Homo sapiens: one gene and its partners. The protein of the gene in region 2 interacts with the protein of the main gene of each other region in a pairwise test. Each region holds a gene or a part of one and is shown on either strand. Other genes may lie near its edges.

Region 1 (3,600 bases), on a different chromosome or scaffold from region 2:
CGGTGTGTGCATGTGCACGGTGTCCCCTCTGTTCCTTACCCCAATGAGGTGGCCCAGTGCCACAGAGATCCCAATCATGGTGGCCGGGGAGCCTGATGTCTGACGGCTGTCGGTGGAAGCGAAGACACAGAGCACCAGCTGCAGGGTCAGAAGCAGCTCCACTGCCACCGCCTGGCCAGTTGAGACACTGTTCCGGACCTGGACAGAGGGAGTTACTCTGGACCAGACGCGGGCTCTGCCCACGGACAGACAGAGAAACCCCTGCCACTGGGCCTGGTCTCCTCAGCTGGAGGGGGGTGACACCTCACTGCCGCCCAGCTTCAGGACTTCGGGAGGCCTGTGCAGAGGGGTCCATATCTGCTCTGGACCCTTGCTCCCTGCAGAAGTGAGTGGTGCTCCTCCCACCCCACCAGTGGGTTGGTTGGGGCCAGTGGTTCAGGAGGCTTGCTTGAGAGGAGACTGGCAGCAGGTGTGGAAGGAGGAGATTTGGGGGAAGAAGGTGGAACACAGATGGTTACGAAATGGAGAAGGGGCGAGTGAGGCAGGCCTCGAGGTGGAGGGAAGAACTTGGGAACAGTCGGAGAGCAGAGGACGTGGGTGGAGCCTGGGAGAAAAATGAAGTCCCCGTGGGGTCCCCTTCTCTACCCACAGGCCCCGCACTCCCTTGGCCGCATCTACCCTTAAACGCCTGGTCCTTCTATTCCTTCTCCTTTATGTGGCCTCTTCCTTCTCCACCTGTTCTTCGCGCCACTATCCCATTTCTATTCTGCCTAGACTGAGGTCAAAGTCTCAGTCCTCTGGGTCCTGGGGCCCAGCCCGGGAGGATGTGGAGCCTGCAGCTGACTTGTTTCCTCCTTTGCTCCCTCGCCTCCGTCCTGGCCTCCACCTTCACCACTTGTGCGCATTCCCGCCTCCTGGCCCTCCAGGTGCCCCTCCCTGCACCTACCACGTTGATCCCAAGGGTCTCTCGGATGTCTCCCGGCATGACCCCATAAAGCAGAGCAGCCCCCACCGTGGCCCCCACCAGCTGGGCAGCCACATAGGCCACAGCACGGGGCAGAGAGATGTGGGAGCCTACGAGGAAGGCCAGCGTCACGGCGGGGTTGGCGTGGGCCCCGCTGGCCTTCCAGGTGACCTGCACAGCCATGGCGGTGACCAGGTTGAAGGTGATGGCAATCTGTAGCACGGAGGGAAGTGCTGTGGGCCAGCGCATGACTGAGCCCACGCCAAAGAACACATACAGCCCCGTGGCCAGGAACTCTGCAAACAGCGCCCTGCTGATGGCTTTCCAAAGCCTGCACGCCAACATGCTGGCCCAGCCACGTCCCCCTGGCTCCACTGCATCCATGTCCTGGTGCCTTGGCCGTTCCTTGCCTTGCTCTGGGGCCTCTTCTCTGTTCCTCTGGTCTCTGATCTCCTGTCTCTTCTGGTGTCCTGTCTCTGGCTGACCCTGGCTTTTGCTCTCTGTGGAGGCTTCTCTGGCCCCCACCTGCAGCTCCTCCACCACGCTCCTGTCCCCAGGACTGTGCTGGTCAGACTGGCAGGGCGCAGGCGGATGGGCTTATGCATGTGTATGGGGGTGGAATGAGGGGTGTTGCTCATATGCCTGCTCCAGCCTGAGCTGACCTGATGGGGTGGGATGTGGGGGCTGTCTCTGGGCACTGAGCTGGAACCTCCTACGATGATTTCCAGGGCGGGTTGGGCCTGACTCGTGTTGTAGACAGTCCAAGGTCTAGCCTGAGGGTCGCAGGTGCAGGGCAGCGGGGCTCATGGGATTTCAGACTGTTCATGTTCCAATGTCAGCTTAGATACAGCAAGATCACTCAGATCCCCGGCCTGCTTCAGGGGGTCCTGTGCATTCCCAGGTCCTGTTCGTCTGGCCCCCTCCATATCTAGGCTTTGCTTCCAAATGGGCTGACACCACACCGTGCCCGTAAACCCAGAAAGTAAGTTCCCTCCTCCACTCCCACCTATACCCGCACTCACAGAATGCAGATGTGAATACAGTCGACTTTACCAAGGACGCTGTGGACACTGTGGCCTGTGGGGTTGCAGAGGGGCGGGTGGAGAAGGGGTTTATTCCACAGCGACTCAAACCGCGTCAGATCACACAAGGCCATGGGCACCTCTGCTGTCCACCAGGGGAAATTTCCACTGGCCCTTCACTCACTTCCTCCTGCCTCCCTGCCCTCCCCCGCGCTCCCCTCCCTTCTTGGCTCCTCCGTCTCTGCTCTCCTCCTCTCAGGGGCCAAACAGATTTCACTCCTTTCTCACACAAGGCAGCTTAACCATTTTTTGTGGCTGCACTGGCCCTATGGTCACCCATGCCCTAGGCTTTCCCTGGCCCTATGGTCACCCATGCCCTAGGCTTTCCCCTTTTAACCCTAGCAGATAGCAAGGTATCTTCTCAAACAAAAGTGTTCCTCCCTAAGAAGAGTCTGCCAAGCTATTGAAATAACAGTCTTCCCCTCTTCACCGTAGCTGGGTGTCCTGACCTCATCCCTGGCATATCTACCTGCCTACAGATGTCCCCTGGTTGTTCTCAGGCTCCTCAAACGCAATCTGTCTCCAGATGTGATCCTCCTGTCTCCTGGTACCCCCCCCAACCCCCATGTTCTCCTCTTGTTTTCTGCAGCTCAGCTGGTGGCATCTGGGAAGCATCCTTGACCCTTTTCTCCCTCCTTCCCCCATCCAGGAAAAGCATCAAGTCCTGCTGATTTTCAATCCTAAATATCTCCTGACTGTGCCCTCTTTTTGCCACCCCTGCCGCCCTGCAGCCTTTCACCAGTCTCTCTGTCTGCTCCCTTGCTCCGTTTCAATCAATTTTCCATACTGCAGCCCAAGTGCTAAAATGCAAATCTGATCATGCTGCTCCCCTGCTAAAATCCCTTCCAAGCCTCCCATCCCTCTGGAAGCTCTGTGCCTGCCTTCAGGGACCCTGCAGCTCTCCCTCACCTCTCCCCACTCTGTTACCCTCTGGTTTCACCAAATGCACACTCTTGCTGGCCTCTCCTTGGAAAAAGCTCTCTCCTCTTCTTGGAGATCCCTTGCACTCCCTTTGCTTGGGTAACTCCCATTCCAAAGGCTCAGCTTTGACGTCGCTTGCTCCTTTCCTGGGTGGGGACCCTTCTGCGTGCTCCCACCACACCTGGGCATTCTCCTACACTGCAGTCACCACAGGGTGTTGTCATGGTGTGAATGTGTCTCCCCAGTGAGGCAAGGCGGGGAGGCCTTTGGGGGGCGGGAACCAAGTTTTGTTCACCCCTGCATGTAGTGTCTTGCACAGAGATTGGCACAGTAACTGCCCAATAAATATTTGTTGAATGAATGAATAAAAACTTCTTGACTTCCCGGGGCAGATGACTATGTCTGCTGCATTTCAGCCTCATACTCATACCTTCCCCCAACTGGGACTGAGCCCTCTGATATCTTCAAGAGAAACATCTTAACTCTGGACTACAGGCTCTGTTCCTCCCCAGTCCCTGTCTGAGTCCCAGTAACATCCCTCACCCATTTCCTTCTGTTCTCCCTGCTGTCTCGACTTCACCATGTCCTCTCCAGGGAACTCCTGGGCATCTCACCCTGAGCAGGCTCTTGCCA
Region 2 (3,817 bases):
CTGGGACTCTCAGCCCCCAGTTGCTTATCCAGATGTGACAGAGCTCGACCCAAGCCAGGCTGCACACTCCTGGACTGGGCTAGCCTGCACTGCCTGGGAAAGTCGGCCGAGGGCCCAAAGCTGCTGAGGGGTCTGAGGCTGGTGCCCACCCCCAAGCTAGTGTGTTCTCTGCCCCTCCCTGCCCGCGTTTCAGGGCCTCGGTCCATAGAGAACACCACCACCATGGCCAGGTGGAAGGGTTTATTAGTCCCTGCCAGCAGCTGTCCTCCCTGGTGCAGGTGGCCTGGCCAGCCCACTGGATTGGGGACGGGCCAGGCTGGGCCAGGTCGGGGGCTCAGTCTGGGAGGTAATAAAAGCAGACCGACACGCAGATGTTGCTCGGGAAGCAGATGTCGATGCAGAGATAAATCAGCCGCTGTCTCCGGGGCCCTGTGGCGAGGGTGCCGTGAATCTCCAAGGGCTCCGCCCCCAGCTCCTCAAACCATCCCGAGGGCCTGGCCTTCCCCCACAGCGGTCCTGACTCACCCTCTGCTCGCCGGGCCCAGTAGATGGGGGTCCTCATGCACAGGCGCTGCACCAAAGCCCCCGCCTGGGCGGGGTCCACTTCGAGGCTCCCCTGCACTGCCAGCAGCTCCTGGGTGTGGTGGGTGTCCTGGCTGGGGACCCAAGCCTCTTGGACCTGTTGAGAAGGCTCTGGTGGGCGGTGGGACAGGGCTGCTCCCTGCTCCTGGCTTGGCAGGGCCGGGTACCCTCCAACCCCCAGTGATGTCCCCACCCTCAGCTCTTGTCAGCAGCCTGGGCTTAGGGCGGAGAGAGCTTCCTGTTCCCTGAAACCACAGCTCCAGCCTGTCCCGTACTGGGCTGCACACAGGACCCTTTGTCTAGCCCCTGGCCCGGGCCTGCGCCCAGCAGGACGGCTCACCTTGGAGGTATCCACCAGCAGCCGCAGGGTCTCCCGATCACTGTCCTCCATCAGGCGGAGGAAGCAGACCTGGTGCTCCTCAGGGCGGTAACAGATGCAGCCCTGGGGAGGCAGGGGGGTGAGGCGGGGCCCCCCAGACCGACACCTGCCAGGGTGACCCCTCCCTGCCCACTCACGCTCTGCCCGTCGAACAGCACCGCCCAGCTGTGGTTGCTCTGAGGTGGGGTCACTGTGATGGTCGCCGCGTTCCGGGCCACGTCCACCAGGATGGTTTGGTTGGGCCGGGGCATGTGGGGGCTCGGGAGGGTCATTCGCAGCGTCTGCAGCCTTGGCTGGCAGTGGGAGTTGGAGTTCAGCCGGGCAGCTGTGCAACCCCAGCACAGCCTCCAGCTCTGGGCTGCAGGACTCCTGACACCCCTGAGTGGGCCCTTCCACCCCTTGGTCCTCTGGCTGTCTGCTCCTAGGTGGTGTCACTGCCTGCTCCGCACCCTTGCTCTGCTGGAGGCTGGGATATGCCAGCTTCCCTTCTCCCTTTCCACTGTCCATGTCCCTGGTGCTGAGGAGGGGCTCACCTTGGGAGGGCCCTGAGCAGAGCCAAGAAGCCCTCCAGCCACAACCCCCACAGCGGCCAGCACCAGCAGCAGCAGCAGCAGGAGCAGGCTCACGGCTCTCCAGCCCCCGCAGGAGGGCTTGGTCTTCACCTGGGCGTGCATCAGGGTCAGAAGGGTCATGAGGGTTAGACATCAGGGAGCAAGTGGGCTGGGGAAGGGAGGGGCTGGGTGGCCTGGGGCACCCCCTGGGTCCTTGCTGCAGGAGTAACGGGAGGCACTCACCCCTGTAGGCCCAGGTTTGGGGCGCTCAGCACAGCAGCTTGCTGGTTCCATCCTGCAGCCCCTGCTCACAATGTGCCGATTGTCTGCGTCCCTTGTCTGCAGCCTTGGCCAGGGGAAACTCAGAACAGAACCCCTCCCCTCCTGACCCTGCGCCTCCCCCTCAGCTCTGGATCTGATATCCAGGTCAGAGCCAGGACAGCCCCTCCTCCCACCTGGGGGATGCCTGTCACCAGGCCCGGCTCCAGACACCTGGCCTGTGCAGACTGGAGCTCAGGGTCTGGGAGGCGTAGGGCTCGGCCGCGTGGAAATCCAGTCCGGCTGACCGACTGGAGGGCAGCCCAGGCCCGGCCAGGGTGACTCGCTAAGTGTGGTTGGGGTGGATTTCGTTTTCCTAAAGTGGCCTGAGTCTGTCAGGTTATCCTTGACTCCCAGAGTTGGGCACAGGGCCTGACACGCCACAAGCTGTCAATACGTGCCTGTTCAGTGAATGACAGGTGTGGGACTGTGCACCCCCAGCCACTTCCCAGCCCCCGCACACCCAAGACCGGGGGTTCCTGAAGCCTGGACCACAGACAGGCAGCCTGCTGGAGCCTGTGCCCCTGGGACAGTCAGGCCAGCCTCGGGGGCCCGCCTAGCCCAACTTTTTTTTTTTTGAGACGGAGTCTCGCTGTGTCCCCCAGGCTGGAGTGCAGTGGCGTGATCTCAGCTCACTGCAACCTCTGCCTCCCGGGTTCACACAATTCTCATGCCTCAGCCTCCCTAGTAGCTGGGATTACAGATACATGCCACCAAGTCCCGCTAATTTTTGTATTTTTAGTAGAGATGGGTTTTCACCATTTTGGCCAGGCTGGTCTTGAACTCCTGATCTCAAGTAATCCACCTGCCTCAGCCTTCCAAAGCGTTGGGATTACGGGTGTGAGCCACTGCGCCCGGGCCAGCATTACTTCTGAGCTCTGCTCCCTGCCCTGGGCGCTCTGACACGGCAGCCCACCAGCTTCACTCCAGGGCCCTTTGCTTCCCTGGCTTCCCTTTGTGCCTGGCTTTCCCTCATTCTTCAAAACATCTTCCTCTGAACCAGGCTGGGAGTGGGCAGTTGGCATTCCAGCTCTGGAGTTGGAACCCCAGTTACCCATCTACTTTGAGTCCTCCCACCCGTGGTGAGACGGCATCACCCGGGCCAATGCAAGGTGAGAGCAAGGACACCTGAGCCAGTGTGGGTTTGAGAGTTTAATCTGTGCTCTGGCGCCCACAGTGCTGCAGCCCCTCATGGGCCAGAGACAGGATGCACGGGGACTCCCAGCCCCTACCCGGCAAGAGAGGCATCACTGAGGCTGCATCTGCCATGCGCTCCTGGTGTGACTGCACCCTGTCAGGCCAGACCCGGCTTGAGCCAACTTAGCCAAGCCAGCGTCAGTGTCACCAGCCTCATGGGTGGAGCCACCCTCATGCTGCTCTGCAGCACCCTCTGAACCCGATATCCCAGGCCTGGGAGGTGCTGAAGGCTCAGGACGCCTCTTATTGCTCTGAAGTCTTTGTGACCAAGTGGAGTGCTGTGACTGTGGGGCCAAGAGAGAAGCTGCCAGGTACAGGGAAAGGCGCTGGTAGGGAGCCAGCCAGAAGGTGCAGCATCCCGGGATGGCCCTGCTGAGTCTGCTGTCAGGCCTGTGAAAGGTCAGCAGAGCCAAGGAGCAGGCAGGAGAGGCTGGAGCCCCGCCCAGAACCTTGGCGAGCTGGTGGCCCTGCCAAGTCCTGCTGGCCACTGAAGAGGGAATCCAGGGCAAGGCAGGTGACCTCCTGGGCCACCAGTCTCTAACCCCTACCCCAGCCTAGGGAAGGGGAGGACAGGAAGAGACTGGATGCTTTGTAAAGGACTTCCTGTTCTTGGGGACATAACTCTCGTCCCCTCCCAGAGCCCTGGATGACTGACAGGCATTCCTTGGCCAACACATGCTTGAGCCGCGCTGCTGGCTGCAGGGCACCTGGATGACAGGCATTCCTTGGCCAACACATGCTTCAGCCGCGCTGCCGGCTGCAGGGCACAGAGGCTCCTTCAGTGGAATTT
Region 3 (3,817 bases), on a different chromosome or scaffold from region 2:
ACACTTCCCACCAGCTATGCACGAGGGTGTCTGGAGGCAAAAGCCCGAGAGAGCAGAGGTGGAGACGGCTGAGCACTGTGCTAAGGTCTGGCGGGCACCAACCAAAAGTTCCAGATGGTGACCAGGAGAGGGCGCCAGGGCCCCACCCCCCAGAGGAAAGGCGTGTAACAAACGGGGGATAAAGGAACTTCAGAACAGGGGAGTACCTCAGAGAGCCCCCCGCCAACCCCTTCATTTCACACCAGAGGAGCGGGGCTCCGAGCAGGGAAGTGACTCATCAGGTCTGGATTCAGGAGCCCTGAGAGTCCCTCTGCACTTTCAGAATTGACCTACCTTCCATTTTAGTCATATCGTCTGATCCGTTATGTCTCTTTCTCCTTTGTTCATTCACTCTGAGGACTGAATCTCCGCTTCATTATTTTTATCACAACGACATGATAAAAAATGAATAAACCTGTGGCCTGGAGGTTGGGATTCCTGGATCCTTTTTTCTAGGAAGAGCCCTGTCTTTAACTTGATCTTTTCCTTCATGCCCCACACTTTGGCCTGCTCACTAGCAGTGATAATGCTGGAGATAGACTGAGAAAGGCTGGAACTCCCCCCTCAGGATGCAGGACTCCGGTTGCAACAGAAACACCTGAGTTAGGCTGCTGAAAGGCCTTCCCACTCACGAACACGGAACTAGCTGTAGGAGTCCAAAGATTTTAAACAAGACTAGAGAGCTATCAACCTGTCCCCTTCTCCCAGCAGGGAATGAATTTATGTAATAAGAGATGCCACAGATGGGGAAGAGGTTGCACGTGTGATTACTGTGAAGAAAGACAAAAGAAAAAAAGATTGTCAAACTTTGGTTTAGAGAGAGGTTCTCAAGGTGTGGTCCCAGCAGCAGCACTGCCCGCCAGGCAGTGTGTCACGCAGTGCAAACTCTCAGGCTCCACCGACAAAAGCAGAAAGGCTGGCTTCCAAAAAGCCCTGCAGGAGATTTTGAGGTTTGCTAAAGTTTGAGAACCCCTGGCTTAGAGGCATGTATTGCTTACAGGTAGAAGGAGAGATGACTTCCGGGTAACCTCATGAGATTTCTCTGAGCCCACTGAGTCAGGGATTCAACATAGGCCAAAGAAGAAGGCCTAGCTGAATCAGTAGCTTTAGGCCTCATGGAGGCTAGCCTCTTTCTCTAAGGGACCAGGAAGAGCTCATTCTATCATCTCCAAGCCTTTCTGCTTTGAGGAAAGGCACAGAAAGACAAGCTGCTTAGGGAATTTACAGGAAGCTGGCCACCAGAAGAAGATGGGTCAATGGTGACATTTTTAGATGTCACCATTCCAAATACATGGGTTTTTGCACTCTTTAAGGGCCTCACTCGTGGAAAACTGCTGTCCTACCCTTCCCTGTCCACAGAGAGCAGGACGCCCTAGAGACCCTGTGCCTCAGCCTCACCCTCCTCGGTGACTCTTAGGGGGATCAGCCGCGTCGTCTTCACAAAGGGCCGATGCGCCTCAAACTCAAACTCCCGGGACACATTGCAGGTGTAGAGGCCAGAGTCGTTCAGAGTGACGTTGAGCACAGTGATGGACACGTCCTGCAGGTCCTTGCTGCCATTCCACTGCAGGCGCCCCTGAAAGGGGCTCTCCACCTCCTGGTGGCCATTCCGATACTCGTAAATCTGCAGATAGAGGAGCAGAAGAGGGTAGGGCCAGGAAAGGAGATGGCAGTGGGGGGAAGCCGAGTTAGGGACAGGGCAGAGAAAAGGAGCAGAATTGTGCATGGACAGGGAAGAGAGGGGACAATGCCACCGGGAGACCCAGAATGTGGGGGTGGGATGAAGAGGCACAGAGGAGGGTAGGGAAGGGAGCAAAGACAGGGAAGGACAGGCAGAGGCAGCAGGCATCAGGGCATGTGGACGTGGTGAGGACAGAGGCAGCCACGGGCGTGTAGGAAGAAGCTTGGCAGAAAAAAAGGGGTGGAAAGAGGGAGAACAAAGGCAGGCGGGAGAAGAGTATGGGAGCCCAGGAGACGGACATTGAGAGAAAGACAGGATTGTAAAAAGATAGAGAGAACAAGAGAGTAAGATGTGTCCCAGAGCCGCTGGCAAGAGAACAAGGTAGAGACAGCAAGACAGGCAGATTCATTAGTAATGAAGACATATGAAAGCCCTGGCTTTAAAACTGGACTCTCTGTGCTGGTACTCATCAGGGGCTGTAGGACAGTCTGGGCCAGGCCACAGGAAGGAGGCCCAGGATGCTGAAGCATGGCAGATGAGCAGAGAGCCATCACCAGAGAGGCACACGTCACATCTTTTGCTTTGGACTGAATTTTAACTAAAATATCATCTTTTAAATTTCTTTCCTCAACACTTCCACCCTCTGACATAACAGCCAAACTCATTTCTGACTCTAGCTTCTATGTGCCATTCTCTCTCTACAGCTGTGCTGGCTATTCTAGTCTCCACTAGCCACATGTAGCTACTTAAATTCAATTTCTTAGAAGTTAAATACAATGTAAAATTCAGTTCCTCAGTGGCACTGGCCACATTTCAATTATTCATAGCCACATGTGGCTGGTGGCCACTGTATCGCACAGCACAGATAGAGAAGGTTTCCACCATCACAAACATTTCTATGAGACAGCCTTGCTGTGGATTTCCATGGATGTTTTGCTGTTGCCGTTTTATTTTTCATTTTCTTCTTCTTCTGATCCACCTTTTCCTCACTTTGGGCAGGCCTGGAAGCAATGTGGGCAGCTATCACTGGTACATGACCAGGCCTGAAGGCCCTGGGGGCCTTTGCATCTGGCCAAGACATCCAGCCTCCTGCAGCTGGGGGCTAGCCTCAGTTGCAGCTTCATTGACGTGTCACTGTCACACCTGAGCCAGGCTCTGGGAAGTCTCCGCTGGTCCCAGTCTTAGTACCAGACGGTTGCAAATCTGCATCAGAATGGCACATAGAAGCTAGAGTTAGAAATGGGTTCGGCTTTAGGATAGTGAGAAAGAAGAGCAAGCTAAACCCAGTTTCGCCCTTCCATTGTCTCTGTTACAAATCTTTGTGGAGGAGAAACTTGCCCCCAGGAAGGCAAAGCAGTGCCGTAAAAAGGGCCTTGTATCTGCTGTTAGACCACCTGGCTCAAGTCAAAGCTGTCTTAGTTATTAACTTAACTTCTTTGAGCCTCAGTTTCCTCATTTCTGTGTCTATCTTTTCTCTAGCAAACATTTACCAGTGCTTACTATATTCCAGAAACTATTTTTAATGCATTAAAAATTATAGCTCATGAGTCCTGGTAACAGCCCTATAATTTGGCTATGCTTTATATCCCCACTTTAAAAATGAGGAAACCGAGGCACAGAAAGGATGACCAACATGTCCAAGGACACAGAGGTGATAATAAGTGTGAAGTCAAGAATCAAACCCAGGTGGCCTGGCTCCACAGTCAGTGAAGGAGTAAATAATGGTCATCTCCAAGGTGGTATTCAAAATATATGACAGCCGACCAGGCACGGTGGCTCACACCTGGAATCCCAGCACTTTGGGAGGCCGAGGTGGGTGGATCACCTGAGGTCAGGAGTTTGAGACCAGCCTGGCCAACATGGCAAAACTCTGTCTCTACTAAAAATACCAAAATTAGCTGGGCATGGTGGTGGTGCCTATAGTCCCAGCTACTGGGGAGGCTGAGGTGGGAGAATCGCTTGAATCTGGGAGGTGGAGGTTACAGTAAGCGAGATCACACCACTGCACTCCAGCTGGGTGACAGAGGGAGACCCCGTTGAGAGAGAGAGAGAGAGAGAGAGAGAGAGAGAGAATATATATATATATATATATATATA

Evidence for each region.
Region 1: the proteins of BRICD5 (region 2) and AQP6 interact in binary tests that used the Homo sapiens proteins (3 or more experiments, as listed by UniProt).
Region 3: the proteins of BRICD5 (region 2) and SCN3B interact in binary tests that used the Homo sapiens proteins (3 or more experiments, as listed by UniProt).

Annotation. Positions count from the first base shown.
Region 1 is NC_000012.12:49,970,922-49,974,521, reverse strand, and holds the start of AQP6 (aquaporin-6), read right to left. Parts: upstream 1,576-3,600; 5' UTR 1,349-1,575; coding exon 947-1,348; intron 199-946; coding exon 40-198; intron 1-39. UniProt on the Homo sapiens protein: Aquaporins form homotetrameric transmembrane channels, with each monomer independently mediating water transport across the plasma membrane along its osmotic gradient.
Region 2 is NC_000016.10:2,209,028-2,212,844, forward strand, and holds BRICD5 (BRICHOS domain-containing protein 5), read right to left. Parts: upstream 1,837-3,817; 5' UTR 1,807-1,836; coding exon 1,756-1,806; exon of another isoform or gene 1,667-1,755; coding exon of another isoform or gene 1,624-1,666; coding exon 1,495-1,623; intron 1,255-1,494; coding exon 1,099-1,254; coding exon of another isoform or gene 1,025-1,098; coding exon 923-1,024; intron 680-922; coding exon 526-679; coding exon of another isoform or gene 430-525; coding exon 335-429; 3' UTR 226-334; downstream 1-225.
Region 3 is NC_000011.10:123,641,009-123,644,825, forward strand, and holds part of SCN3B (sodium channel regulatory subunit beta-3 precursor), read right to left. Parts: intron 1,664-3,817; coding exon 1,438-1,663; intron 467-1,437; exon of another isoform or gene 1-466. UniProt on the Homo sapiens protein: Regulatory subunit of multiple voltage-gated sodium (Nav) channels directly mediating the depolarization of excitable membranes.